Linked DNA regions of Homo sapiens: regions 2 and 3 are each linked to region 1. Evidence: fine-mapped expression QTL. A gene starts in region 1. Each other region holds a variant in brackets. All regions are shown on one strand. Distances are from middle to middle.

What was found. PIP is the estimated chance that this variant, and not a neighbour inherited with it, causes the effect.
Region 2: its variant is fine-mapped to the expression of ACAP2 in whole blood (INTERVAL, PIP above 0.99).
Region 3: its variant is fine-mapped to the expression of ACAP2 in putamen (GTEx, PIP above 0.99). The same link has a PIP of 0.9 or more in amygdala, anterior cingulate cortex, caudate, cerebral cortex, hippocampus and hypothalamus.

Annotation. Positions count from the first base shown.
Region 1 is chr3:195,438,168-195,448,775 of GRCh38, forward strand. It overlaps ACAP2 (ArfGAP with coiled-coil, ankyrin repeat and PH domains 2), which reads right to left and starts at 4,853. Exons shown (of 23, transcript NM_012287.6): 1 at 4,628-4,853. The coding sequence starts at 4,680. RefSeq lists enhancers at 3,768-3,857, 4,397-4,896 and silencers at 4,308-4,357, 4,378-4,597, 4,718-5,217.
Region 2 is chr3:195,273,198-195,283,805 of GRCh38, forward strand. It overlaps ACAP2 (ArfGAP with coiled-coil, ankyrin repeat and PH domains 2), which reads right to left. Exons shown (of 23, transcript NM_012287.6): 23 at 1,548-6,231. The coding sequence ends at 6,131. Among named protein-coding and RNA genes, the nearest start is that of XXYLT1, 7.3 kb to the left of the region's middle. The variant A/G (reference allele first, on the strand shown) is at 4,887.
Region 3 is chr3:195,351,677-195,362,284 of GRCh38, forward strand. All of the region lies in intron 4 of ACAP2 (ArfGAP with coiled-coil, ankyrin repeat and PH domains 2), which reads right to left. Among named protein-coding and RNA genes, the nearest start is that of XXYLT1, 86 kb to the left of the region's middle. The variant C/G (reference allele first, on the strand shown) is at 4,472.

The DNA.
Region 1 (10,608 bases):
GGTGCCCACCATCACGCCCACCTAATTTTTTTGTATTTTTAGTAGAGATGGTGTTTCACCATGCTGGCCAGGCTGGTTTCGAACTCCTGACCTCAACTGATCTGCCCACCTCAGCCTCCCAAAGTGCTAGGATTACAGGTTTGAGCCACCACACCCAGTCAGGATTCCTGTATTTTGGTTCATAATAAAATTACTTTATAATTCCATTCTACTGCTTCTGAGATTAAAAAAAAAAAAAATTTCCCCTCAGCCCTTACCCACTGTATTAACAGGCAGTTGCTAAAAGTTTATTATAAAGATGGAAGGCAAAGGAAGGAGACAAGATTGGCACCAATCCAGACTTAATAGCAACACATAACTGAGGTGTATTTAGTAGTCACATTTTATTCCAATGTCTTTCGCCCATTAAAACCTTTCACCTGACTGGGCATGGTGACTCATACCTGTAATCCCAGCTACTCAGGAGGCTGCGGCAGGAGAATCACCTGAGTCCAGGAGTTGGAGAACAGCCTGGATAACAAGTAAGACTCTGTCTCTCAAACATAATTCACCCACAAACACCCTTTTTAAAAAAAAAGTTATTCTAAGTTACTGAACAAGAATCGTATCTAGCCGGGCATGGTGGCTTATGCCTGTAATCCCAGCACTTTGGGAGGCTGAGGCGGGCGGATCACCTGAGGTCAGGAGTTCGAGACCAGCCTGGCTAACATGGTGAAACTCCGTTTCTACTAAAAATACAAAAAATTAGCCAGGCGTGGAGGTGCACGCCTATAATCCCAGTTACTCGGGAGGCTGAGGCAGGAGAACTGCTTGAACCCAAGAGCCGGAGGGTGCAGTGAGCCGACATCGTGCCATTGCACTCCAGCTTGGGCAACAAGAGCAGAACTCTATCTCAAAAAAAAAAAGAATCATATCTGAAATAGAATCTAAAAATGAAAAACCTGCAGGATGGTGTATGATAGACATTGTTAAAGGATAAAAATAAATTATCAGATAAAAACTAAAGCATACCAAGGCTAAGGCCTTTTTTTTTTTTTTTTTAAGAGAGAGAGAGAGAGTCTAGCTCTGTTGCCCAGGCTGGAGTGCAGAGGTGTGAACATAACTCACTGCAGCCTTGACCTCCTGCCTCAGCTTCCCATGTAGCTGGAATCACAGATGCACGCCACCATGCCCAACTAATTTTTTTATTTTTGTAGAGACGGTGTCTCACTTTGTTGCCCAGGCTGGTCTCAAACTCCTGGCCTCAAGCGATCCTCTTGTCTCAGCCTTCCAAACTGCTGGGATTACAGGCATGAACCACTGCACCTGGCCACAATATTTTTATACTTGAACACTGCTGACAAAAATCTTTCATAATTCAGAAAGATGTTTATTTATTCAATTTATTTATTCTACTTTTTATTTCAAATAGATATTCACTTCCTAAGTAAAACAGAATACATTTTGGGTTTTTTTGTTTTTTTTGTTTTTTTTGTTTTTGAGACAGTCTCGCTCTGTTGCCCAGGCTGGAGTACAGTGGCACAACCTCAGCTCACTACAGCCTCTGCCTCCCAGGTTCAAGCAGTTCTCATGCCTCAGTCTCCCAAGTAGCTGGGATTACAGGTGCACACTACCACACCCGGCTAATTTTTGTATTTTTAGTAGAGATGGGGTTTTACCATGTTGGCCAGGCTGGTGTCAAACTCCTGACCTTAAGTGATCCGCCGTCCTCCACCTCCCAAAGTGCTGGGATTACAGATGTGAGCCACAGTGTTCAGCCCAAGAGTATGTTTAAGTAAAAGAAAAGCAGTACTTTTACGGAGGTTTTGTAAAATTTTAAAGACCTACTACATGCAACTACATACAATTAAGGGCCCAAACAAATTCCAACTTCAACATATTTTGGCCAAAATGCAAAATTTCCACTCAAAAAAAAGTATACTTAGGCACTTTACATTCCTGTAGATTTTTAGATGAACAAGGTTTTTAGATTTTAGATGAACAAGATTTTGACCTTTAAGCTGATTTTAAACTGGTATTTAAAAAACCAAAAAGGGAACCCAAAATTATACAACGAAATGTGCCCTCCAATCCAAAACAAAAAAAAAATGTTCACTGGGATGTAAAAGTAACCATTGACTATTCAAATTACAAAAGACAATGTTGCAAATGCAACATCCTTCTCCCTATTTCAACCAGTCCCCTTGTATTCTCCTCATTGATTTAACAGGAAAATAGATGTTTAAAGCTTGAACAGTGGTGAAATTTTCATCAGCAAGATGTGCCTTTTGCATTAATTCTACAGCACCAAGACAGTTATGTGCACACACTAGACTTAAATGCCACAAGATTCATTTATGAATAAAGACACGTATTAATTTAAAGACAGCCCAATAGATCAGGACACAAGTGCAGCTGCCTTACTACCAAAAAACAAGCCCAGGCCTCACAAGCTTTTTATTTTGATACAAGTTTCACTATCACTCAACATACACAATACTCTCAAAAGTAAAGCTCTTCTTATACATACAACATGTGAATGAAGACTTCTCAAATATTCTTTTCAAATGCTATACAGATCCTCATAGTAATAGGATTATGGAAAAACTATAAAAAATTAAGAATATGAATAATGAAACTTCTATTTCTCGGCAGTCTTCCCTCTATTGCAAATCTAATTTGTCCCCAAAATGTATATAAGATGTTGAAGTTATTGAAATTTTGGCATCTCTTCCCAATTTGCAGCTAACAATAATTGGAATATGGGAAACAACTCCTGAAAACCTGTAATATTTTAATTAACATAGAATTTATGTTACAATCAAGTTTAACAAAAGTTCACTATAATATTCCCTACAACTTAATCAGTATGTTGCCCTCTTATTTTATATTCAATGATTTCTTTATTTCAAAAACAAAGACATCACATGGTTTGTGACCAACCCCAGTAGCTAGAAGTATTTCCAAATCACTTCTCTCAACTTAAAAAAAAAAAAAAATTAATGTGAAACAAAGGGAGTTCAAAGCTACATCTTCTAAGGGAAAAATGCTGTGATTATTTCACTTAAAAATAAATAGCTGAGTCATAGTAACAAAATTTCACAAAAAGCTGAACTTTCTAAGGTGCACTTTAAAAATTACTCCACTTGCCATGCTGTCCTGGAAACCAACCTGCACGCCTGTCCTAGGAAATCTATTTGTGTCTCTTGAGTCCTTCAATAATGCAGAACATAAAAGTTTCAAAAATGAATCGCAACAACAGCTATCAAAGGAAGTGGGTTTTTTTAAATAATAGCCCTAGGCTCCAATAAAATTAATACCCAAAAATCATCAAAGGGCAAACGCAAAAAGCGTTCTTAAATTTTCTCTAAGTAGCAGTTCCTTAGTTTTACAATTCTTTTCTTTTTCGCTGAAAGGAGAATAAGAAATCCAATTAACAGTGTTAAGGATGAGAACAGTTAGTTCCCAGGCAGAGGATGCAATTTACAATCCAGGCTTGGCCCAGACATTAGCGGGCACACACACGCCAGTGCTCAGAGGAAGCTTCAAGAAATGTCACTATCTAACGGAAGTGTTAAGGCCTTATATTTGTAAGGACTATGACCAGCCCTGTAAATAAATACACTGTAAAACGCAACCTAGAAAAACTCCATTGTCCAAAACAACTCAAGACTTTCCTACTATCCTCAAAACAGAAAGAACCTGTGTCCTGGACGGCCTCAGGACGACCGCCTCTCACATAGAAAGAAGGGCAACCCATGTGAATCGGAGTGCCCCCATGTCAACTCTGTGACAGATCCACTGGGAGCATCCGACTGTGATCCGGGCCCTCCTGGGCAGAGGCTGCTGGAAGAGGAACACACAGGCAATCTTCACGGCCCTCCTACTTCCGTTCTCAAAACAGAAATGCACTTTTCTGCTAGTCCTCCGCCCTCAGCCCGGTACCTCTCGACAGCTGTGCCCCCTTCAACGAGCTTAAGTGGAAAGAAAAGCAGGTAGTCACCAACTAGGGTCCACGGAATGCGGTTGATCACAGCGCTTCCCCCCGCGATTCCCGCACGCATCCACCGCGGGCGCCCTCCGGAGAGTCGCTCTGGCCGGGGGCACCGCGAAGCAGAAGTCGGCGTCCCAGTTCGCCCCCTACTCTCTCCTCCCCGGGGAAGGGGGGCAGAAAAGCGCAAAGAGGAACTAAATGAACTGCAAGAGGATGCCCTGAAAGCTCCCTCAAAGAGGGGGTGGGGAGGGGGTGGAAACCAAGAAGGGGCGGAAGGAAGGGGGAAGGAAGAGCAGCCAGAGGAGGAAGGGGGCGAGAGCGAGCGCCCGCGAAGGGGACGGGACTTCGGGAGCGCGGCTGCACCCCATTTCCCCCAGCGGGAGAGGGTGCGCCGGCCTTCGGGGCGCTCCGCCCCGGCAGAGGGCAAGGAAAGAAATGAGAGGCGACGTCCCCGTCCCCGCCACTTCGTCGCCCCTCGGGAGGGCTCGGTGGGGACTGCAGTGCCCTCGCAGGGTGGGAAACGGCGGCAACAGCCGCTCGCCCCGTCGGAAGGAGCGGACGGCGGGGCCTCCTCCGGGTGCGCGGGCCCGGCTTTCACGCCCCCAGCGCCGGGAAGGCAGCTCCGCGGTGACGCCGGGCGGCCGTGCCGGTTACCTGAAGCGGGGCGAGTCCTTCAGACACTCCTCGAAATCCACAGTCATCTTCATCCTGCCTCCGCCTCGCAGGCGGCGCTGGCAAAGCCGAGGGGGCCGCGGGAGCGGCCGCGCTGGGACGCAGACGGCTACGGCGGGCGCACGGCCGCGACTAGCGTTGCGCGGAGCTGCGAAGGGCGCCTCGCCCGCTGGTCATAGCAGCCGCGAAGACGGCGACGACTAGTCAGGCCCCAGTCCCGCCCCTCTTCCTCCCGCCCCAAGTAGAGCGCTGGCCGCAGGGAAACGGCCGGGGAGTGACAGCAGCGGCCAGCCAGCCACGAACCTGGCGGCCAAGGGGCGGGGCATCCGGCAGCACCGCCTGCGGGCGCCCGGGCAACGGGTCTGAGCGACGGCAACCCGAGCCAATGAGCAGCGCGACCGTGGGCACCTCCTTGCCACAACCGCCCCCGAGGGCCAACCGGGATGCGCGGGCGTCGCTAGGCGGGACGCACCGGTTGCTGGGAGGCCGGCAGCTGAGGTTCCTTGGGAAGGAAGTCACGTGGCTGCGGCCGCGCTTCCCTCCGAGCCCCCGCCTCTTCTCCTGCTCCCCGAGCCCCGCCCTGCTGAGCTGCCAGCCCAGAGGAGCAGTCTCCTGCAGGTCTGAGGAAGGAAATTTGCTTTTCAAAGCAGATTGGCAGAAATCTGAAGAGGTTAGAGGCAGAAATTATAAAAGGAAGAGATAGGCTAAGCCACCTATTCCTTTCAGTTTAGAGAAACTGAGGCCAGAAGAGGAGCGAGGATAACTTTAGTGATAAAATCCATCTTTCATGTATTTGTTCCATAGCTTCATAATCTGGAAATTGCTCCCATGTACATCTTCTCATATAGCCAGAGACCACTTCCTGAAGGAGCTGCCGTTTGGGTTGGACATAGAAAGATTTAGGCAGGTATGGGAGGTAGGGTGCTTCGTGTGGAGGAACTCCTCTCAAAACTGCCGAAAGCATTCCCCCTCACTGACACTTTGCTCCTGGTGGTTTTCACTGTTCTGCCATGGTGGGGTTCTGAAGACCAGGCTCATCGTACTCACCTTGCAACACCTGCCCCTCTAATCCACACTTTTTCTAGAAGCACTTTAAGATACTTATCATCTGATCCTCACGGCAGGTATTTACCATACTCCTTCATTTTAAGATGCCATTGATTGTAAAAAGTACAAAGATGTCTTATATGTAATGAGTAATTTTTAAGCCAACCTAAAAAACACGGGCGTATCTATAAAAATGAATATACAGGGTGTTCTAACAGCATAGTGGCTCTGAGTGAGAATCTGGAGGCAAACTTCCTGGATTTAGGTCCCAGCTTTCTCACTTTAAAATGAACATAACACACAGATCTGATGAAGTTGTCCGGTTAACACAGTGCCACATATCGATCATTCAGTAAATGTTGGCTATTTTAATTGTACCATTTGCCTCTTCAGTACTATAATCAAAGGGCTTAAGTCTAAGTTCTCTCACTTTCACTGTCTGAAGTTTTTGTTTGTCTCAAAAACAATCAAACAATTTCGTTCCGTTCCCCAGGCTGGTCTCAAACTCATGGCCTCAAGTGATCCTTCTGTCTCAGCCTCCCAAAATGCTGAGATTACAGGTGTGAGCCACACACCCAGCCTTCTAAAGTCTTAATATAACTTTCTGACCGTCTGGCTAAGTATAGCGTGATGACATACTGTTTTTCGTAACCCATCAAGAGATATCTTGATCTCTTTAGCATCTTTAGAAATTAACAGTATAGACAGGGCATGGTGGCTCACACCTGTAATCCCAGCACTTTGGGAGGCCGAGGTGAGCAGATTCCTTGCTCCAGGAGTTCCAGACCAGCCTGGGCAACATGGTGAAATCCTGTCTCTACAACTCTACAAAAATATACAAAAAATTAGCCAGGCACATGCCTATAGTCCCAGTTACTCATGAGGCTGAGGTGGAAGGGTCACTTAAGCCTAGGAAGTCAAGACTGCAGTGAGCCATGATTGTGCCACTGCACTCCAGCCTGGGTAGACAGAGCAAAACACTGTATCAAAAGAAAAAAAAAGGAAAAAGGAAAATTAACAGTATAATTCTGAGGCATTTCAGAGAATATAGAAGCATTATATTCATTTATTCTTTGCTTATAAACTTGATTTCTTTTTTAATTGTGTATTCCTGGAAACCACACAGCTTTTCTTGATAGCTAAAAACAGACTATTGACTGTTAAATGTTCAGGGTCCTCAAGCACATTAGTGGTCAGGCCAACCTTCCCTAACATTGTAACTTCAATGTCAAATTTACCAAGACAGTTGGCAATCTCTACTATATTTGGTTGCGTTCCTGATGTGTGACAGCTAATCTGCATATACAATAACTTATTATTTTAATACTTAATCACAGTGTAGCCTTTTAGAAGATACCTAAAGTGACACTTTGGGGTTCAAATTAATATTCAACTGCATGGCACCACAAAGGCAAATAACTAAGCTAATTACCAAGTGAACATCTTTCTGTGGATGGCTAAATTTGCATATACCCAGTTAGTGATAACACTGTCACAATTTTTCTTCCTTGCCCTGTGATAAAGCAAGCATTTGGGGGTGTCAATTCTAAGATAGGTCCTAAATAAAGAAACATTAAAGTGGGATGGGGTGGGAGCAGTGGGTCTTAGAATAAAAGAAATACAATATTATTATCCTCATCTTTTTTTTTTTTTTTGAGAAGAAGTTTTGCTCTACCACCCAGGCTGGAGTGCAGTGGCACAATCTTGGCTCACTGCAACCTCTGCCTCCCAGGTTCAAGTGATTCTCCTGTCTCAGCCTCCCGAGTAGTTGGGATTACAAGCATGCACCACCACACCTGGCTAATTTTTGTATTTTTATATAATAATGGAAACCAAGGTCCCAACATATGAAAATAAATTACCAGGTGACTCAGGCCAAACACAGGCTGCCTGATGCCAGATCCGAACTACTAACTGTCCTCCCTCCCCTTAAGAATTCTGCCTTTGCAGTTGTAACTCTGTCTGCCCGTGTAGCAATCTCCCTTTCATCTTCTCTTTAAAACACCACTCTTATGCCACCCCCTCAGGAAGCTTTCTTGGCCGAAATACAAACCTCTCTATTCAACACACAGTAAAAGTTCCTTACTAGGCCCAGTCTGCACTCTAAAAGAATATAAAGTACCAAACTTTAAATGTCTTCCAAATTTCTTCTCCCCAAACTTCTCAGTCCCTCTCTACAAACCCTCTGGAACCCTGGACACCCATAGTTCTTCATAGAAAGCTGCTGATTTCCTCTGAGAACATTGTTGACCATACATCCTCTTGAGCAGAGGTTGTTCAATCTCTCCTCCCTGGTACTCCTTGGTCAGGATACATAGTCAGCAAAAGGCTTACACTGTCTTACTTTCCTTGTTGCTGTTATCCAGCAATTTCTAGTAACTCCCTGCCTTAGCCTGGCTAATTGCGTTGCAAATTATCTCAAGAAAAGGAAATTACAATGAGGGTGACTGTGGGCACTACTGGAACTGACAAGGGCAGAAACTCAGGCAACTCTTAGGACTGGTTTTCTCTCTTGTCATCTGCATCCTCTCTCTTTCCTACTTGCCCAACCCCATCAACTTTCCTTTCTGCTTTCCTCTAGGTTCTGTTCCCCTGTGAACCTGGTTTGCATACAATCTATCATTGCTACTGATTCCTCTAGAGGCTCCCAGTGGGTAATATAAAACAATGAAACTTTCCAGGTGTGAGCAGCATGCGGTGGTGGAGGCTATGACGAACAGAAAGCATGTGCCCTGTGTCCTTCTCAGCTCCAGTCAGTTCCTGCCATACCAGACCTCAGATTTAATGAGAGACGCCAAACAGCCAGATTTTCATGTGAAATCTCCCTGTTTTCAAATATTGACAAGCCTTTCAAAATATTACAGAACATTGCACAGGTTATAAAAATAAGTTTCAGGGCCACTCTGCAACCTCTGCTAGATATTTCTTGACAATTCTTTTTTTTTTTTTCTCCTTTTTTCTGAGATGGAGTTTCGCTCTTGTTGCCCAGGCTGGAGTGCAATGGCACAATCTCAGCTCACTGCAACCTCCGCCTCCCGGGTTCAAGAGATTCTCCTGTCTCCGCCTCCTGAGTAGCTGGGATTACAAGCTCATGCCACTATGCCCGGTTAATTTTTGTATTTTTAGTAGAGACAGGGTTTAGCCATGTTGGCCAAGCTGGTCTCAAACTCCTGACCTCAAGAGATCCGCCCACCTCGGCCTCCCAAAGTGCTGGAATTACAGGCATGAGCCACTGCGCCTGGCTGACAATTCTTTATACAGCCTTTCAACTTCGGCTCCTGGTGTTAATTGCTTAAATCTGTTTCCCAACTCACAGATCCCAGGAGACAATTACATTAGCCCAGCTCATCTTTTCATATCAGTCCACACAGGTAGTGGGTCCCTGGCAAGCCAAGAGAGGGATGGAATCACTCAACCTAATCATTTCTGCAGGGATGGGGGCTGCATGATGGCTGACTAGTAGTCAAGGCAATTTCCCTGTAAGAAAATGTTGATAGCTCGGCCCCATAAAACACAGCTAGTAAACACTCACGTTCATCCAGGACTTCGGCTCCTGACTCACAGTCCTTCATCCCAACTTCCACCATCAACTAAGGTGACATCAACATTCACTCATTTTTCTTTCATTCAATAATATTCATTGAGCATTTATTCTGGCCAGACCTTATAATAGGCTCTGAGAGGCTGGGCACGGTGGCTCACGCCTGTAATCCTAGCATTTTGGGAGGCCAAGGCGGGCAGATCACTTGTGGTCAGGAGTTCAAAACCAGTCTGGCCAACATGGTGAAACCCCATCTCTACTAAAACTACAAAAATTAGCCAGGTGTGGTGGCACTGTGCCTGTAATCCCAGCTACTTGGGAGGGCTGAGGCAGGAGAATTGCTTGAACCAGGGAGGCGGAGGTTGCAGTGAGCTGAGATCATGCTATTGCACTCCAGCCTGGATGACAAGAGGGAAACTCCATCTCAAAAAAAAAAAAAAAAAAAGGCCAGATGCGGTTGCTCACGCCTGTAATCTCAGCACTTTGGGAGGCCAAGGCGGGTGGATCACCTGAGGCCAGGAGTTTAAGACCAGCCTGACCAACATGGTGAAACCCTGTCTCTACTAAAAATACAAAATTAGCCAGGTGTGGTGGCGCATGTCTTTAATCCCAGGTACTTGGGAGGCTGAGGCAGGAGAATCGCTTGAACCTGGGAGGTGGGGGTTGCAGTGAGCCGAGATCGCACCATTGCACTCCAGCATGGGCAACAGAGTGAGACGCTGTCTCTAAATAAATAAATAAATAAATAGACTGTGAGACTTATAGGTGAGATAAATAATCTTTTCCCCCTACAACTCTCAGACTATGGTAAGTTCTGTGCCAGCAGTCTTTGAGTATTTACAGTGGCCTACTGTAATCTGATAGTCATTTCTCCTAAGGAAGGAAATTAGTGTTCTCATACCTCCATAGATATGAAGAATCTTAAAAAAGTAAGATCTAAGAAAAGGTGAGGAATGTCTTTCAAAGGGTCAAAGGACTGTTAGTCACAAGGAACTATTTTGACTGAAGCACAGAAGCAAGAGAAACACATGGTCTTCAAGCATGGTAAATCGAGAATATGGCTTTAGAAAAGAAGAAATGAATTTCTGATACATACACTATCTGTATCAGAAAGGATCGTACACCATCAATATAGACATTACAAAGAACCTTGTATGCCATGCTAAGGACTGTGTATATTAAAGCGAAGGAAAGCCACTGGAAGAATTTAAGCCTGGGAGTGACATAATCTTATTTGCATCTTAATGGAGAGTGGGACATTTTCAACTGATGCAATTGCAAGCAAGAGATGTTTAAGAAATAAAATTGAGGCCTGGGCGCGGTTACTCACGCCTGTAATCACAGCACTTTGGGAGGCCGAGGCGGGTGGATCACA
Region 2 (10,608 bases), 160 kb before region 1:
TAAAATAATGCAGTCATTAAAAGTGATGTTTTCAACAAACTGCAGGTGGAAATTTAAAAAACTAACAAATGGGTGAGGTGGCTCATACCCGTACTCCAAGCTATGTGGGAGACTGAGGTGGGAGGATCACTTGAGCTCAGGGGTCCAAGGCTGCAGTGAGCTACGATCGCCACAGGACTCCAGCCTGGATGACAGTGCGAGACCCCAATTCCAAAAAAAAAATAGTAATGGTAACAAATGGAAAAAAAAACCTACAGAGACTAAGAAACATATTCACCAACTGCAACGTATGGAACTTATGTGAATTCTGATTTGCACGATCTATTTTAAAAATCGTATTTGAGAAACCAATTTGAATATTGATTATGTAGTTTTACAGTTTAAGAAGTGTTACGATTTTTTAAAGTCCTCAACTTTTAGATGTACATACGGAATGATTTGCTGGTGAAAGGTCTAGGATCTGGTTCCAAAAAGTCCAGGAAAGGGGAAAAATGGGTAGGAGAACAAATATAAGCCATGAGCTTATAGCTATTGATTTTCTCTACCTGTACATGCTTGAAATTTCCCATAAAGTTCTCCCCATCTATTAAGTGAAAGAAGTGGGTAACTGTATGATCCCATTATATAAATGTATGAATACACACACCCAAAGGTCTAGAAGGGTATACACAAAAAAGTAACAGTATCTCCCTCAGTGCTATCCAGTAGAACTTCCTGTGACAATGTATATATTCTACAATCTCCCCTGTTCAAAACAATAGTCACTAGCCACATGGGGCTATAAAGTTCTTAAAATGTAGCAGTACGACTGAGGAAATGAACTCTTTGTCTAATTCCAATTAAGTAGCCACATGTAGCTAGTGAGTTCCATTTTGGACAGCACAAGATAATGGAATTGTGGATGATTCTCTTGCTTCTTCTTAACATTTCTCCACAAGCAAAAAGCTTTGTGTTTGCAATAATTGAAAAATTAAACTGTTTTCACTTAAAATATTTATAGACTATTGATGTGGGTTCTCCACAGAACTATTCTGAAAATGAAATGAAGCTGAATAAAGCAAGTTATATTGAAAAGTTTATGTGTCTGCTTTCAATTAGCTTTTTTTTTTTTAAAGCAAATGCAGGTGATACACTTCCAGTTTGGTTTTTTCAACCTTCCATTCCTTCAGTCCCAATTCACTGACAAACGTGTGTGTGTCTGTTTACTAAAAGGATAAAATGGGAATGTGCTGCATAGATTAGGAACATTAATGTCAATCATAATGGAAAAAACTTAGAGCAAGCCCCTCCCCCCACCCCCCAAAAAAAACCTTTTATCTTTTTGCCAATGAATTAGGGGCTATAACAGCTCTGTGAACAAAGAGAATTATATACTTAAAAGATCCAAATGGATTTCTTGATTGAAGTAATCAGCAAATAGGATGAATGTGGATTTGAAAGGGCTGGGAAGAAATACCTTAAAAATAATAGTACCTTAAAAATAACTGCTGTTGACAGATATGTTCACAGTGTATTTCACAAGAAAATGTAAATCACCATGAAAGAACTAAGCCAGAGGTGAGATCTTTATTGACTTATTGTAATTTTTTGGCATACAAATTACTTAAGTATATTTACAATTCTTACATAATGTACATTTTAGAAGATAATGTACTTTGCTCCATTTACAATGACAAACTACTGTAAAACTACATTCATGAATTAGATACAAATCCTCTACATACTAATAAAAAGTAAATGGACTGTTGGTTATACATTCTTTAAAATATACCTTTTCACAGGTAGCAAGAAATAGTACATGTAATAAGTCTTTATGACTGGAATGATCCAGAAATATCACAAAGCATGAGTAAACACATATATAAAAGTAGCTCATCATTTCCAAAAGTTAACCTTTAGCCTTTGTGTAAAATAAATGGTGCCAACAATCTTTATAATGTAGCAAGCTTTCCCTGTTTAATATCCAAAAAATGGAGGGTGGGGAGGTTGAAGAAAAATAAGAAAAGTTAGCAAATAAGATAGTGAAAAGACCAATGCAGAGAAAAGTTTATGTAATCAAATCTTGCTTTGTCTCCACATTATCACATTTTAAGTGGATAAATTTATGTAAACAGAAAAAGATGTCCACAAAACCATATCTGTAGATGTCATTTGGAAGCATCAAGAAATTGATAAGTATGTGGTGAATTAAAATTACTTTTATAATGTTTTGCTTTCATTAATGTTTGTTATTGCAAAAATGTAAGATTTCCTACAATTTTGTCTTCAAATCCCAATCTAGCCCTTCAAACTTTTATCCAGGTTCTCCAGAATATTTGGAGTCTTTGTTATCAAAGCACAAGGAAAGCTGGCATTCATTATCAGACTTCGCTGCTTTACAATGATTTCAAATCATTTCATGATACAAATAAAGTGCCTCTGACTGGTGGTCAGTCAGACCTGGGTAATGGTGCCAATTCTGCCACCAGCTAGCAAATCAAGTGACCCTGCTCTGTAAAACAAAAGGAGCACCCTAGGATCAAAAAAGTAGACAACTTTGGAGCTTAGATTAAGATCTCAGAAATCCTACCATGAGAATCCAGTGAGATAAAGCAATGCCAAGTACACTGTAAGTAGCAAAACAGTATACAAAGGGATGCTTCTATATTTTCACCTTGTTTCATTACACTCATTTTAATTGTGAGGAGCCCTGAATCCAAAAAGGGTAGTGACGACTAGTCCAGTGCTCCTTCCACCGTATCATGCGGTTCTAAAGTCATTCTGGACATACAATCTACAAAAATACATCATTTTTCCAGCTCATGTCCATGATCCAAAGTGATATTATACACAAGTGTTATCTGACAATATAAGAATGATCTGGGAATGTCTGTTCAAAACGGTAGTAAATTTAGTCTTAAACACAATTTCATTTACTGCGACCATACTTAACATGCATAAAATATTTTTAAAATACAAACTTAAATTGGCCAGATTCTGAATGTGTACTTTTTTTCTTTTTCAAAATGCACTCATGAAGAACCAAAGTTCATATTCCAAATTAAATCTGTATGTCTGGAAAAGTAACCAATCAAAGTTCATTAAAATATACAGTGAAAACCGGTATAAATTAGGCAAACACCATAATCTAATGAATATCAGGAAATTTCTGAGTTTCTAAGGATTGTATTAAAGGTAACTTTTTAAAACCTTAGAAATCTTAAGCACATAAATGTTATAATGAAGCATTTGCAAATGACTGCTCAATTACTTTTATTCTAGCTCTAACATGAAATTGCATTTTATTAACTCTTCATAGTGCTGCTATTCTTATTTTGATATTAATCTAACTTTCAAGTTAGTAAGCTAATGATAATGAGCTAACAGATTAATAATAAGGAATAAGAAACTAATAATAGCAGATAAGTTATGGAAAGAAAATAAAAGGCCAATCACATTGACTAATGAAGCCCAAAAGCATGATTAACTAAGATTTCTTATAATGCACTGAATAATTCACAGCATAACATAATTCAGATTTGTTACATACCATATAAAAGCTATTAGTTGACATGGCTAAATTCACCTAAGAGCCAACCTACCTTGTAACTATTAATTTAATTTAAAGCCTTGCTGTTTACTCCATCATTTCTGCCAAATGTAGTCCAAATTGGGTCTCAGCATATTCAAGAAATCAAGCCACAGAAATGTGTACTTGTATTGCTAGGCTCCCTGCAATATTAAAGATTTTGCTTTCTCTGAAGATATTCTGAACCATGATCATCTTTAAGGCACTTCAAATACATTTCTGACCACTAAATTTAAGTAGATACTAATTAATTACTGCCATATTAACAATTCATCACGTAAGCCACAGGAGGCAAGAGTCTCATAAGGAATTGCCTTCACAACCACAGAGATTCCAGAGGTGATCTGAATGAAACACGCACCAATGGCCAGATCCAAAAGGAAAACTACCTAGACTTCCTCAGATAAAAGTCAGGATCTTTAGGAATTAAAACAGGAAGGGACACTATAAAGGAAAAGTGAGGTTTTTTCTTTTTCTTTAACGTACTTCTTTTCTTTGAGCTTCTTGGTCAAATAATTTCAAGGTACATGCTAATAAAAACTACAAATCAGATTTTTGCCTTTAGTGAAGGTGCCTAAAAAGCCAGATGATCTATGACTTTGAGGTGAAACAGCAAAGATAAAGATTTAATGTTCCTGTTATTGTTATAATTAAATACAATGCTGTGGAAGTTAGCATTTCCTCAGAAGTAATTCACAAATATATTTTTATCCTTATCTAACATACAGTGACCATTACTAAATAAGCATTACATGCATGCAGTTTGGCCAAATTATGGAACCTTTTCTGTAATGTGAACTTATTTCAATATAATTCCTGCTTGGCTAGATTCTGATTTGATGTTTAATCAACTTATAAAACCCTAGTGACTGGGAAATGTTAGAAAATTTATCTATAATTGGATCATAAAGTTTTTATATATTTTAAAACCTCTTATTTAGAAAGAGTATCAATAATATCATTTACATATAATTTCTAAAAGAAGAATAGACTTAATTGTTGACAACAATGGGAAGGAATCAAAAGGCAAATTAGGCTGGGTGCGGTGGCTCACGCCTGTAATCCCAGCACTCTGGGAGGCTAAAGCAGGCTGATCACCTGAGGTCAGGAGTTCGAGACCAACCTGGCCAAAATGGTGAAACCCGTCTTTACTAAAAATATAGAAATTAGCTCGGAATGGTGGCGGGTGCCTGTAGTCCCAGCTACTCGGGAGGCTGAGGCAGGAGAATTGCTTGAACCCAAGAGGAGGAGGCTGCAGTGAGCTGAGATCGTGCCACTGCACTCCAGCCTGGGTGACACAGCAAGACGCCATCTCGGG[A/G]AAAAAAAAAAAAAAAAGCAAATTAATTATTTTATACTTTAAGACATTTTCAAAGATGGAATCAGACTAATTTGTAGCATATAAATGGTAATGTTTATCCATAATATTTTGGAATTCAGGGGTCTGTGAATCATGTAACCGAATACTAAAGCTATATACACGATATAATTTAAAAGAATGTACACTGTGTACAAGTACACAAAATAGATGTAGAAAAAATAAACAGCAATTTATTGCTATATATTTTAGTATTAACTAAGAATAAGTGGGGTTCTTTTTCTCCTTTGTACAGAGATTTTTCTTTCACTAGGAGCAACAGCAAAACTATCTTTAAAAGGACAAATTTCAAATATAAAAATGGCCTACATGATTTTATAAATTGATTTTTCCTTTAAAGTTTTGATGAAGGCATAATTTTGTGACATTCAAGTAACCTTTAAAACATACTTTTATTCCATCGATACATCTGTCAAGGTTTTGGGGAATCAACCCAACAATGAAGAACTACACATTTTGAACTGGGGTTTTTTTTTGTGATTAAAAAAAAAAAAGAGCTTCTTTTTGCTGCATAAAATAAATCTAAAGGACTGAATTATGGTCTACCTGTACAGCCATTATACATACATACATTAAAGTACTGGACAATAACCTGTCACCTAAGAAGTATAACCGACCGCATTTATGAACAAACGGGGAAAACACATTCTCTAGTTCTAATAAATCATATATTATGTGTATGAAAGCTAGGTTACCAAAAACACATCAACACACACACCTATTTCTGAACCACCAAAAAGCCTCAGGGAAGCTAAAGAAAACACATATTCTTGAGGCAGGCAGGACAGTTGGCTTCCACTTGATGAAGACATGCTTGACTGAGTGATCCTGGGCAAGATGCATGGAGGAAAAAAATCAATGCCACCACCCATTGGCAAAAGAATCACTTTTGTCTAACCTCCTATCATCTTGTAACCTAGAGATGGCCTAAATCTAGACTGAACTTCTGTCTACAGAAATAGCCCTTTAAATAGGCTTTTTTAATAAAAGAGGTCCTAAACTAGGTTCCTCTCCTACTACTAGATAACTATGTTTTAATTTATAAATATATGAATGGGTACCTCTTTTCCAAGCCATTCAATATCTACCAAAATTAAGTAGAATTAAAGCAGTAAAAAAATTGTGATTTTTTAGCTGTATACATTAGGGGGTCACCAGATTTCATATTTTCCCATTTTTAAAAAAATTCAGAATTTCTGTGAATCTTGCTGGAAACGATTTAGTTTCTCTGGATTATTGGATGCCATTTGGGAAAAATCACGAAATATGTCCTGATAAGTTTCATCACCTGCATGAAATAAAATAAAGACACTTTAAACATTTACACAAGTATTAATCAAACAACATTCATATTTATTACTAGTACTATTTTATAATTCATTACATTAAAATTTTGTTCAGATGAGCATTTTTGGAAGAAAAGGGGCAACTAAAAATAAATGCTGAAAAATTATGCAATGAAAGAAAAAAAAAAACTATACCTGAAAAAAGCACCTCAGATGCAGCCACAGAAGAAAGCTCAGAGTTAGAAAAGAGCAAAGATGCAAGTGTTTTAAAGCAATGTAAAGAAATACGTTTATTAACACACGGGGGGGAAAAGTCATTCTAAATGAGGTGGAGTAAATGAGACCTTCTTTAAATAAATATTTCCCTTGATAAAGGCCAAAAGAAATGACTAAAACCAAATACTAATGTTTTGGATGGATGCAAGTTATTAACAAGACAAACTGATAATCAAGACAAACTGATAATCAGATAGGGAAAAATAATACTATCTTTTAATTAAAAGCAATTTGAAAAAGTAATTTTTTACTCAAACTTTAATGCGTAATTAAAACTAATGCACCTAATCCACTGCTTCCTAAACTCATAAAATAAAAATCTAGCTGGGTGCAGTGCCTCACGCCTATAACCCCAACACTTTGGGAAGCTGGGTGGGGGGGTTGGGGGGAGAATTGGTTGAGGCCAGGAGTTCAAGACCAGTCTGGGCAACATAGCGAGACTACATCTCTACAAAAATTAACAACAAAATCCTAGAAAATGGCTTTAAGGCCAGGTGTGGTGGCTCATGCCTGTAACCCCAGCACTTTGGGAGGCTGAGGCGGGCAGATCACCTGAGGTCAGGAGTTTGAGACCGCCCGGCCAACATGATGAAACCCTGTCTCTACTAAAAATACAAAAAGTAACCAGGCGTGGTGGTGGGCACCTGTAATCCCAGCTACTCGGGAGGCTGAGGCAGGAGAATCGCTTGAACCCGGGAGGTGGAGGTTGCAGTGAGCTGAGATCGCACCACTGCACTCCAGCCTGGGCAACAGAGCGAGACTCTGTTTCAATAAAAAATAAAAAAAAGAAAATGGCTTTAAAATCAGTTTTGCATTTAAAAGTTGGGTTTGTTTTTGTTTTACTGCAGGTCATATGAGCAAGAATGCTATGACAAAATGCAAATAAATACCAAGGACATCTGTTAAATTAGAAAAATAAACGTGTATATGTACAAATATGTTTACCGAGAAATAGATTATAGATACTGATATTATAGCTGACTGAATACCATTTTTCTTGTCATGAGAAACTAAATATACACACACATACAGATCAATCCCTCAGACGAAGGAATCTTATTTTCAAGATAAATCGTTGATCATGAATGCTTCCTGCTAAACATTAGCCTTATACAAATGCTTGGCATAATTCTGTTCTCAAGATTTCAACCATAAAATACTGTTTTTGATTATTATTGTAACATTTTAAAATTATCTCCTATAAGATACCTTGCATCCACCTTATAACACACTCATTGCTACAGATGTTGTTAATAGTGCAGTAAGTTTTGTCAGTTTTTAAAAAGTGAGATTTTTGAAGCAAGAGATGTCATACCAAAAGCTAGAGAATTAGAAAAAAGTTGAGGATAGGAGTAAAGATCTAGTAAAAAGGTCTAACAGCATAAGCCAAGATTTTGAATTAAAAAAATGTTAATACTTTTGGCCCGGCCGGGTGGCTCACGCCTCTAATCCCAGCACTTTGAGAGGCCGAGACGGGCGGATCACGAGGTCAGGAGATGGAGACCATCCTGGCTAACACGGTGAAACCCCGTCTCTATTAAAAATACAAAAAATTAGCCGGGCGTGGTGGTGGGCGCCTGTAGTCCCAGCTACTCGGGAGGCCAAGGCATGAGAATGGTGTGAACCCGGGAGGCAGAGCTTGCAGTGAGCCAAGATCGCGCCACTGCACTCCAGCCTGGGCAACAGAGCGAGACTCCGCCTCAAAAAAAGAAAAAAAAGGAAAAAAAATCTAATACTTTCTAGTCACTTTTTGTATTTAGTCTAGGTAAAAAGCAACTATTAACATCTCTATATAGTTTTCATTTAGCCCTGGAAATTTATTCCCGACCTGAATCAATCAATTAAACCTCATCAGTCTACTTTAAAAAGAAAAAAACAGTAAGAAGAGATTATTAACAGGTGGCTGAGAGTAACATCTAACTCATATTGACATGACTAAAATAAAAGGTTGATACGTTGGAACAGCTGGTAAGACAATCCAATTATACCCATGGTTTTGTAAAAGTTCACTTCCACATCAAAAGACAAACATTGCTATTCTCATTTTAACCATTCTAAAAGATAGAAAATAAATAGAGCAACATTAAATAGCAACAAACCATATAAAATATTTTTTCTAATTTGCAGATGTTGAATTAAAATATGTAAAATATTTATTGTAAACATTATAAATATTTTTAAAAGACTATTTAAACTGGATAGTCTGGAATTTTCCTTTCCAAGAAAGTGTAAAGTGCAGAGTATAATACAAAAATACCACAAAGATTTTACCATTCAACACTAGAAGTAACTTAAAAGGCACACATTATACATTCAAGAAGAAATAGGAAGAAGGGTCTAGCAGACGTTAATACCAAATAGTCTACAGGTAGCACCAGATGAGCACTGTTAAGTATTACAACAGTACAATGGCAATATATGGCTTCTACTATTAGCAATGCATATTTTGTATAACAAGCTATGGAACTTTTTAAATGGTTTCTCCGGTTTTGTTTTTAAATCATCTAGTACCTATTACACAAGTATATTTTAGTAGAACCATTGTACCATGCAAAACAAATTATAAGACTCAAATGCTTCCTTGAATGAAAGTGTTGGTGCTATAATAATCATTGGTTTCACTGACTGAATACATTTAAAAAGTGTTAATATAATACAAAAGGAAGTTGCCACCTTCACATACACACAAAACTTTTTGTTAACATTTAGTTTCTAACAAAACATTAATTAATGCACTGTTAATGTACTACCTTTCTTAGATCTCAAAATGTGTTGTCAAAAGCAAATGTTACAAGAACAATAGTGACCAAGATATTTAATACAGCTAACACAAATTGAACTTCAATGTGATTTTTTAATATTTAAATATAATTTTGATTACTTAGAATTTTTCCCAAGGCAAATATAATTTGTCTACATTGGAACACATAAACAACAACCCAGAATATGCTGCCATGGAATGTTCCCAGAAATACATTTAACAGTTTATTATAAATGGTAAACAACTCATCACTCAACATTTATAATACTAAGCATATTCTTTAAACTTAACCACATTCTATTTCCCCTCAGACAGTTAACTTTTCTATGTGCCTGGACAGCTCTAAGTTTTTAAAATGCAGACTGCTGTGTTTCCACTGACAGTTTAAATTCACTTTTAATTTTTGGTATTCAGAATATCTACCACAACAGCAGTTATGATGATTCAAGAGTTTGCTAATTTTGCTCTTGAAATGTACTCCCCTCACCTCACAGGGACGGCAGCACATGAGACCCACCCCAGGTCATCCTATGCACGACCTTACCCCTTCTGGGTGGGTAACAGCTTACTTTCATAATTACTTAGATCAGCGATTCCCAACTTGTGCTTGCTACATACTCACATAACCAGTAGCGGGTCCCTAAAGCAGTGATGATTCTCAACTGGCTGAGAGCCTGCCAACGATCAAGAAGAGTCACAGAGCCAGAGACTGTGGGAACCACCAAACCGGTTTCCAACAACTGAGAGAAGAGTGTGCTGTTTCCCTCACCCACCCATGTCTCCTAAGGGCTACTGGGACTGCCAAAGAGAGACACACCTTCTTTTGAAGAAAACGTGTGCTCTCAATCACCCCACGCAAGAAACAGGGAGTCCCAGGTCCCTAGGGTTGTACAGATAGAAAGTTCACAAGTGGGGTTTCCTAGAAATAAATCAGTGATTGCCAAAGATTACATCTGAATCTTTTAAAGGATAAGAGCTCTTCATTATCAAAAGATTAAAAATACCTGCATTTAATTTACCCAGAGTTCTGAGGTTTTCATTCTATTGCTAAGAAAACCAAAAAAGGATCTCAATAAAACAAGCAACCAAAGCATTTGATAGAAAAATGTACAGTGATAAGCAGAGGAAAAACAAACAGCCGCTGCCTGAGCCAAACATACCTGTCTCATAAAGAAAAAGAACAGAAACCGAAGAGCAATTGCTATGCCATTTCACCATGTCCCCTGTCTAAGCATAAAATCATCCTGCTTTAAATATTAGGCCCTCTGAATGAGTTAAAAATCTAACCCTTCTCAAGATGATCCTCAAATAAATCAGAAATATCTCAATTTTATTCTGATAT
Region 3 (10,608 bases), 86 kb before region 1:
GATGGTCTGGATCTCCTGATCCGTGATCCGCCCGCATCGGCCTCCCAAAGTGCTGGGATTACAGGCGTGAGCCACCATGCCCGGCCTAAATCCATTTTTTTAATGAACAAAAGATGACACTTCACCAAAGAAGATCCATAGATGGCAAAGAAACAAAATGCTCAACATCATTACTTATTAATAAGGAAATGCAAATTAAAACCATAAACAATTTTAGAAAGTGACTATGCCAAGTGTTGCTGAGCATGTGGAACCCCTGCACTCTTGTACACTGCTGATGTAAAATAGCACAATCCACTTTGCAAAACAACATTTGTGTAGGTTTTAATTTCTTTACAGATATTAACACTTTAAAGAAATGTAAAACAGTCATGTGCCGCATAATGACATTTTGGTCAAAGACAGGCCGCACATATAACGGTGGTCCCATAAAATTATAGTACTGTATCTGTACTGTACTTTTTCTATGTTTAAATACACAAATATCTACCATTATGTTACAAATGCCTAACGTATTCATTACAGAAACATGCTGTATAGGTTTGCAGCGTAAAAGCAATAGACTACACCACGTAGCCTAGGTGTGTAGGAGGCTACACTGCCTAGGTTTGTGATAAGTACATTCTATGATACTCACACAATGAAGAAATCACCTAACAACACATTTCTCAGAATGTTTCACTGTTGTTAAATGATGCGTGACTGTATTAAAAATTAATATAAACAATAAATAAAAGAAATTAAATATTTCCTTATTTTCTCTTAGCAATGGCTTACAGTCTTCACTTTAAAAATAGTAAACATTTAAGCATAACACTATCTTACAAACTAGCCGTTTTACACCTGGCTATTCACATAAAGAAATAAAACTATATGCCTACACAGATTTTTACATGTATTTTAATAAGCATTTTTATTTGTAATAGCCAAAACCTAAAAACAACCCCAAAGTCCATTGCGGTAGCTTTAAAATATGACAACAAATTCTTTAACACTGCTTTCTTCAAAAGCAGCCCCAATTCTTTGCTCTTTGAGTGTGGGCTAGATGGAGTGACTTACTTCTAGCAAACAGTATCATGAAGAAAGTAACAATGTGTGACTGCTGAGACCAGGTTATAAAAGGCATTGAAGCTTCCAGCCAGATGCAGTGTCTCAGCACTTTGGGAGGCTGAGGCGGGCAGATCACTTGAGGTCAGGAGTTCCAGACCAGCCTGGCCAACATGGTGAAACCCCAACTCTACTAAAAATACCAAAATTAGCTGGGTGTGGTGGCGCACATCTGTAATCCTAGCTACTCAGGAGGCTGAGGCACAAGAATCGCTTCAACCTGGGAGGCGGAAGTTGCAATGAGCCAAGGTCATGCCATTCACTCCAGCCTGGATGACAGAGTGAGACTCTGTCTTTAAAAAAAAAAAAAAAAAAGGCATTGGAGCTTCCTGTTTGCCCATGCTGCTCTTGGATCACTTGTTTTAGCAGTAACCAGATTTCATGTCATAAGGACACTCAAGCATCCCTGCAAAGAGGATCCTTGGTCAGAGGACCAGAGACTGAGGCAATCTCATGAAATTCCTGAGTCAGAGTCACCCAACTAAGCCACTCCCAAATTCCTGGCCCAGAAACTGTAAGATAATACATGCATGTTGTTTCATGCCACTAAGTTTTCAAATAATCTGTTATACAGCAGTAGATAGCTAATATAACCATCCACAGGTAGATGGATTTTAAAACTTGTGATAAATCCATACAATGCAATCGTATTGAGCAATAAAAAGGGAATGAAGGACTGAAACATGCAATATAATTGGACCTCAAAATAACACTGAAGAAACTAGACTACAAAAGTCCATTTACATACAATTCTAGAAAATGCAAACAAACCAATAATGATAGCAGATTCACGACAGACTAGGAATGAGGGAAGAAGGGAGAGAAACAGAAATTACAAAGTGGCAAAGAAAAACTTTTAAAGCATGATTGTTATATTCACTAAATTATTTGTAGCGATTTCATGGAGATGTGTGGATCTCAAAAGTTATCAAATTGTATGCTGTAACTATGCAGTTTATGTCAATTATTCCTTAATAAAGTTGTTAAAAAAACATCATTATATTCCAAAGAGAAAAGCAGAACATTTTTCTCTTTTCTGCTTTTCAACTTTTTTTTAACTTTTAGGTTCAGGGGTGCATGTGCAGGATGTGGAGGTTTGTTACATAGGTAAACGGGTGTCACAGGGATTTGTTATACAGATTATTTCATCACCCAGGTATTACACCTACTATCCATTAGTTATTTTTTCTGATCCTCTCCCTCCTCCTACCCTCCCACTCCAATAAGCCACAGTATGTGTGGTTCCCCTGTATGTGTCCATGTGTTCTCATCATTTAGCTCCCCCACTTATAAATGAGAACATGTGGTATTTGGTTTTCTGTTCCTGTGTTAGTCTGCTAAGGATAATGGCCTCCAGCTCCATCCATGTTCCTGCAAAGGACATGATCTCATTCTTTTTTATGGCTGCATAGTATTCCATAGTGTATATGTACGTATGCATTTTCTTTATCCAGTCTACCACTGATGGGCATTTAGGTTGATTCCACGTCTTTGCTGTTGTGAATAGTGCTGCAATGAACATACACATACATATGTCTTTATAATAGAACTATATTCCTATGGTTATATACCCAGCAATGGTATCTCACCCAGCTGATGTGAGATGGTATATCTCATTGTGGTTTTGATTTGCACTTCTCCAATGATCAGTGATGTTGAGCTTTTTTTATATGAGTGTTAGCCACATGTATGTCTTCTTTTGAGAAATGTCTGTTCATGTCCTTTGCCTGCTTTTTAATGGGGTTGTGTTTTTCTTTATAATTTAAGTTCCTTATAAATTCTGGATATAAGAGCATTATCAGATGAATAGTTTGCAAATATTTTCTCCCGTTCTATAGGTTGTCTGTTTACTCTGCTGACAGTTTCTTTGATTGTGCAGAAACTCTTTAATTAGATCCCATTTGTCAATTTTTGCTTTTGTTGCAGTTGCTCTTAGCAACTTCATCGTGAACTCTTGGCCCATACATATATCCTGGATACTACTGCCTTTAAAATGTAACATTACCAAAATTAAATTTTCTATACACTTGAATAGAATGTCAAGTATTTCATGAAATTAGATGTCAGTAATCTAGACTATTTACTGGCTTTGTTTTGGAGACAAGAGTCTCACTCCATCACGCAGGCTGGAGTGCAATGGCATGATCTCAGCTCACTGTTACCTGTACTTCCCAGGTTCGAGCAATTCTTGCGCCTTAGCCCTCTGAGTAGCTGGGACTACAGGCATGTGCCACCATGCTCAGTTGATTTTTGTATTTTTACCAGAGACGGGGTTTCGCCATGTTGGACAGCCTGATCTCGAACTCCTGACCTCAGCCTCCCAAAGTGCTGGGATTACAGGTGTGAGCCACTGTGCCCAGCCACAATAATGTAGGCTATATACTTTTAATACTTCCATTAGTGTGAAAAGTATGTTGTCAATAAAGCAACAGTTCTGTCTCTGACTTGCCAATTCTCAAGCCACAGCTATCTAACAGCTAATTCTTTTCTTTTTCTTCTTTTTTTTTTTTTTTTTGGTAGTTATTGTTGTTCTTAAAGCCCTTCCTCATGGACAGCTAACTCTTTTCTATATTAAACTGCTACACAGAAATTCCTCAATTCATCTACTGGTATCTAAGTCTCCAGTCTATACTTTCCCAGGAGAAAATTCACACATTTTCCCATCATAAAAAGTTTAAAAGCCACCAACAGAAAAGCTAAGGTTCACTTATATTTCTGGAAATTAACAGTATTATTCCAAGCAACACATGTATTACAAATAATCAAAAATGTCAGTTGACCAATCTGCTCATTATAAAATGAACTTACAAAAGTGCATAGAATAATATATGACTCTTTAAAACCAACAGCTCACACTAAAGTTATTCCTCATACATGTATGACCACAGTTAAAGCAGCACTATCTCTGCTCTCTTCAGGAAAGGAGGAAAGCTAAGACGCACTTCAAAGATCTAGTCCAGAAAGGTTAGTAAAAGAGTAGGCTGCATAACCATAGAGAGCATTATCCCCATTTCCAGTTCTTACAAGTAAGGTGACTTTGGCTCTAAGTATACATTTTGTAGTTTCAAGTCCTTGTGATTTATTTAAATATTATTCAGGGCCAGGCAAAAGACTCCATTGCAACAAAAATTAAAAATAGAAACAAGCTGGAATGGGAGGCAGAGCAATATGGCCAAATAGAAGCCTCCACCGATTGTCCTCCCTGCAGGAACACCAAATCTGACAACCACCTACACAAAAAGCACCTTCATAAGAACCAAAAATCATGTGAGCAATCACAGTACCTTCATATTGCTGAAAGAGGCAGTGAAGAGGATAGAAAAGACAGTCTTGAATTGCTGACCCCAGCCCTCCCCCATGCGCT[C/G]GTAGCAACCACAGGGCACAGAGGAAGAATCTGCGCTGCACACGGGGAAAGAGCACAGCAACTGTGGGACTACAAGCCGGAACGCAGTGCTGCCAATCCCGGCAGAACTCAGCCAATGCCAATGAATGGAGCATTTAGACCAGCCCCAGGGACAGGACAATCACACAGCCTGGAGGTTGGAACTGGAGTTTCTGCAAGCCTCGCCACCACAGGCTAAAGTGCTCTGGGGTCCTAAATAACAGTAAAAGGCAGGCTAGGTCACAAGGACTGTAACTCCTAGGCAAGTTGTAGTGCTGGGCTGGGCTCAGAGCCAGTGGACTTGGAGGTACATGACCTAGTGAGACACCAGCCAATGCGGCTAAGGGAGCGCTTGTGTCACACATCTCCCAATCAAAGGCAGGAAGGCTCCCAGCTCCAAAAGAGATTCCGTCCTTCTCCTTGAGAAGAGGAGAGGAAAGGATAAACAGGACTTTGTTTTGCAACATAAATACCATCTCAGCCACAGTTGAATAAGGCATCAGGCAGAGTCGTGAGGTCCCCATTCTAGGCTCTAACTCCCGGGTGATATTTTTAGACACACCCTGGGCCAGAAGGAACCTGAAGGGAAGGATCAAGTCCAGGAAGAATTCACCACTTGCTGACTAAAGAGCCCTTAGACCCTGAATAATCACCAGCAGCAACCAAGTAACACACACTGTGGGCCTCAGCTAAGACTCAGACATGCAGACTTCAGGTGTGACCCGGCATATTCACAGCTGCGGTGGCTACGAGGAAAGACTCCTTCTGCTTGAGAAAAGGGGAGGGAAAAATAAAGGGGATTTTGTCTTGCAGATTAGGTACCACCTCAAACATAGTTGGGAGGAGCACCAAGTGGGTTCGTAGGGTCCCTGATTCCAGAGAACACTGGACGGCACCTCTGGAACTACCCTAAGCCAGAAGGGAACTCACTGCCCTGAAGGGTGGGTCCCAGGAATGGCGACATTCATGAAAAGCTGAGCCCTTGGGCCTTAAGTGAACAGTGACAACATTGTGGCAGTACTCCCTGTGGGCCTGTGTGGAGGTGGACACAGGGGGTGACTCCACTGCCTGGGGAGAGGAAAGGGATGGGTGGGAAGGACTGTGTCTTTTGATTTCAGTACCAGCTTAAACATAGTTGAATACAGTGCCAGGGAAATTTCTAAGGTTTCCGATTGCAGGCCCTGACTTCCAGGCACTCTGAACCTGTCCGGAGCCTGGAGCCCAGAGGAATTCACCACCCCGAAGGGAAATACACAAGAATGACTAGCTTCAGCCACTCTTGAAATAATGACTATAGCCTGAGTGCCTTAAGAGAACACAGCTTGCAGCCAGGTAATAGTTACAGCAGGACATGGGCAAGACACGGTGCTTTGCTGGCTTCAGATCTGACGAAGTACAGTCCCAACGATGGCGGCGACAGGAGTGCTTGTATCACCCCTCTCCAAGCTGCAGGCAGCTTAGCCAGAGAGAGAGAGAGACTGCACTCATTTTGGAGAAAGTAAGGGAAGAAAACAAGAGTCTCTACCTGGTAATCCAGAGAATTCTTCCAGATGTTATCCAAGACCACAGTATTAGTCCATTCTCACACTGCTATAAAGAACTGCCTGAGACTGGGTAATCTAGAAAGGAAAGAGGTTTAATTGACTCACAGTTCTGCATGGCTGGGGAGGCCTCAGGAAACTTACAATGATGGCAGAAGGCAAAGGGAAAGCAAGGCATCTTTTTCACAAGGCAGCAGAGGGGAGAATGAACGCAGGAGGAATTACCAAACACTTACAAAACCATCAGATCTCATGTAATGCAATCACTATCACCAGAACAGCATGGGGGAAACCACTCCCATGATCCATTTAGCTCCACCTGGTCTCTCCCTTGACACGTGGGGATTATGGGGATTACAATTCAAGATGAGATTTGGGTGGGGACACAAAGCCTAACCATATCAACCACCAAGCTGGTATCTCTATAAGTGTCCAAGAACTACAGCATTACTAGTCTTGGGGTGCCCTCTAATGCAGATACAGCTGTAGGGACCAAAAACCTAGATAATAACAACTAAGTAGGTTTGAATACTTGGATAGCCTTCTCAAGAAGGATGAGTACAAACAAGCCCAGACTGTGAAGCCTACAATAAATATCTAATTCTTCAATGCCTAGATAATCACAAATATCCACTAGCATCAAGACCATTGAAGAAAACATAACCTCATCAAAAGAACTAAATAAGGCACCAGGGGCAAATCGGAGCAATGGAGATATGTGACCTTTCAGACACAGAATTCAAAATAGCTGCTCTGAGGAAACTCAAAGAAATACAAGATAACAGAGAAGAAATTCAGAATCCTATCAGATGAATTTAACAAAGAAATAATTTTTAAAAACCAAGCAGAAATTCTAGAGTTGAAAAATGCACTTGATATTTAAAGAACGTATCAGAGTCTCTTAACAGCAGAACTGATCAAGCAGAAGAAAGAATTCCTGAGACTTATGAGCCCTGTTTAAAAACAGAGAAGAAAAAAGAATAAAAAAGAATGAAGCATCCCTGTAAGATCTAGAAAACGGCCTCAATAGCAAATCTAAGAGTAAGGTAGAAAGAGAGAAATAGAAAGTTTATTCGAAAGGATAGTAACAGAAAATTTCTGAAACTGAGAGAAAGATACAAAACTTCAAGTAAAAGAAGGTTATAGAATACCAAGTAGATTTAACCCATTATTAGTTTAATAATCAAATTCCCAAAGATCAAGGATAAAGAAAGGATTCTAAAAGCAGCACAAGAAAAGAAACAATACAATGGAGCTCCAAAACATCTAGCAGTAAACTTTTCAATGGAAACCTTACAGGCCAGGAGAGAGAGTAGCATGACATATTTAAAGTGCTGGCAAAAAACTTTTTTACTCTAGAATAGCATATGAAGCAAAAATATCCTTCAAACATGAAGGATAATTAAAGATTTTCCCAGACAAACAAAAGTTGATGAATTTCATCAACACCAGACCTGTCCTACAAGAAATGCTACAGGGAGGTTCTTCACTCGGAAAGAAAAGGAGATTAATGAGCAAGAAGAAATCATCTGCAGGTGCAAGGCTCACTGGTGACAGTAAGTAGTACAAAGACAAACACGGAATACTATAACACTGTAATTGTGCTGTGTAAACTACTCCTATCTTAAGTATTAATAGAAAGGTGAAAAGATAAACCAAAAATAATGAGTATACCTTTTCAACAGAGACAATACAATAATATACACAGGGAAACAGTAAAAAGTTACAAAGTGAGGACACAGTGTTAAAGTATTGAGTTTTTGTTTGTTTGTTTGTTTTGAGACAGAGTCTCGCTCTGTCACCCAGGCTGGAGTGCAGTGGCGTGATCTCTGCTCACTGCAAGCTCTGCCTCCGGGGTTCACGCCATTCTCCTGCCTCAGCCTCCCAAGTAGCTGGGACTACAGGCGCCCGCCACCACGCCCGGCTAATTTTTTGTATTTTTAGTAGAGACGGGGCTTCACCGTGTTAGCCAGGATGGTCTCGATCTCCTGCCCTCATGATCCGCCCGCCCCAGCCTCCCAAAGTGCTGGGATTACAGGCGTGAGCCATCGCGCCTGGCCTAAAGTACTGTGTTTTTATTAGTTTTCTTTTTGTTGGCTTGTTTATGCAATCAGTGTTGATTTGCTACCGTAAGATACTATTTGCAAGCCTCATGGTAACCTCCAATCTACAAACATATAATAAATAAGCAAAAAATAAAAAGCAAGAAAAGAAAACATAACACCAGAGAAAATCACCTTCATTAAAAGGAAGACACTATGGAAGAGAAGACCACAAAACAACCAGAAAACAAATAACAACATGGCAGGTGTAAATCCTTACTCATCCATAACATTGAATGTAAATGGACTACACTCTCCAGTCAAAAGACAAAGAGTGGCTGAATGGATAAAGAAACAAGACGCAATAATCTGTTGCTTACAAGAGACACATCTCACCTATAAAGACAAAAACTGAAAATAAAGGAATGGAAAAAGATATTACATGCAAATGGAAACCAAAAGGAACAGAAACAGCTATATTTATATCACACAAAACAGACTTCAAGAAAAAAAAATTTTTAAGAGACAAAGAAGGTCATTATAATGATAAAGGGTTCAATTCAGCAAAAGAACATAACAAGTATAATTATATATGTACCAAACACTGGAGCACCAAGATATATAAAGCAAATATCATTAAAGCTAAAGGGAGAGACAGACCCCAATATAATAACAGCTGGAGACTTCAAAACCCCACTTTCAGCACTGGACAGATCATCCAGACAGAAAATCCACAAGGAAACATCAGACTTAATCTGCACTACAGGCCAGGTGCAGTGGCTCATGCCTGTAATCCCAGTACTTTGGGAGGCCAAGGCGGGCGATCACCTGAGGTCAGGAGTTCGAGACCAGCCTGGCCAACATGGTGAAACCCCATTTCTACTAAAAATACAAAGCTAGCTGGGTGTGGTGGCACGTGCCTGTAATTCCAGCAGTTTGGGAAGCCAAGGCAGGAGAATCACTTGAACCCAGGAGGCAGAGGTTGCAGTGAGTTGGGATCGTGCCACTGCACTCACTCCAGCTTGGGCGACAGAGTGAGACTCCATCTCAAAAAAATAAAAAAAAAAGGAAAAAGAAAAGAAAAAAAAAATCTGTACTATAGACCAAACAGGCCTAATGAATATTTAAGAACATTTCATTGAGGGGGTGTAGAACACACATTTTTCTTCCCAGCACATGAATCATTCTTAAGGACAGACCATATTGCTAGGTCACAAAACAAGTGGTAAGAAACTCAAAAAAAAAAAAAAAAAAAACCTGAAATAATATCAAGGATCTTCTCCGACCACAATGGAATAAAACTGGAAATAATGAGGAATTTTGGAAACTATATAAACACATGGAAATTAAACAATATGCTCCTGAATGACCAGTGGGTGAATGAATAGATTAGGAAAGAAACTGGGCTGGGCACAGTGGCTCAGGCCTATAATCCCCACATTTTGAAAGGCCAAGACAGGCAGATCACTTGAGGCCAGGAGTTTGAGACCAGCCTGGCCAACATGGTGAAACCCTGTCTCTACTAAACAATACAAAAATTAGCCAGGTGTAATGGCATGCACCTGTAATCTCAGCTACTCAGGAGGCTGAGGCATGAAAATCACTTGAACCCAGGAGGCAGAGGTTGCAGTGAGCAGAGATTGTGCCACTGCAATCCAGTCTGGGTGACAGAGCAAGACTCTGTCTCAAAAAAAAAAAGAAAAGAAACTAAAAAATTTATTGAAGCAAATGATAATGGAAACACAACAAACCGAAGCCTATGTATGGGATATAGTAAAAGCAGTATTAAGAGGAAAGTTTATAGCTAAGAGTGCCTACATCAAAAACAAAATACCTTCAAATAAACAACCTAATGATGCATCTTAAAGAACTAGAAAAGCAAAAGGAAACCAAACCTAAACCTAAAGTTAGCAGAAGAAAATAAATAAAGACCAGAGCAGAAATAAATGAAATTAAAAAGAAGAAAACAATACAAAAATCAACGAAACAAAAAGTTGGTTTTTCAAAAAGATTAAAAAACTGACAAACCTTTAGCCAGACTAAGAAAAGAGAAGACCAAATAAAAAAATCAGAGATGAAAAAGGAGACATTATAACCCATACTGCAGAAATTCTAAGGATCATTACAGGCTACTATGAACAACTATGCACCAATAAATTAGAAAACCTAGAATAAATGGATAAATTCCTAGACACATACAGCCTACCAAGATTGAAGCACGAAGAAATCCAAAACCTGAACAGACCAGTAACAAGACCAAAGCTCAAATAAAAAGTCTTCCAGGCTGTGCCCGGTGGCTCACTCCTGTAATCCTAGCACTTTGGGAGGCCAAGGTGGGTGGATCACCTGAGGTCAGGAGTTTGAGACCAGTCTGGCCAACATGGCTGAAACCCCGTCTCTACTAAAAATACAAAAAAATTAGCCAGGCGTGGTGGCACTTGCCTGTAATCCCAGCTACTCAGGAGGCTGAGGCAGGAGAATTGATTGAACCTCGGAGACAGAGGTTGCAGTGAGCCGAGATTGCGCCACTGCACTC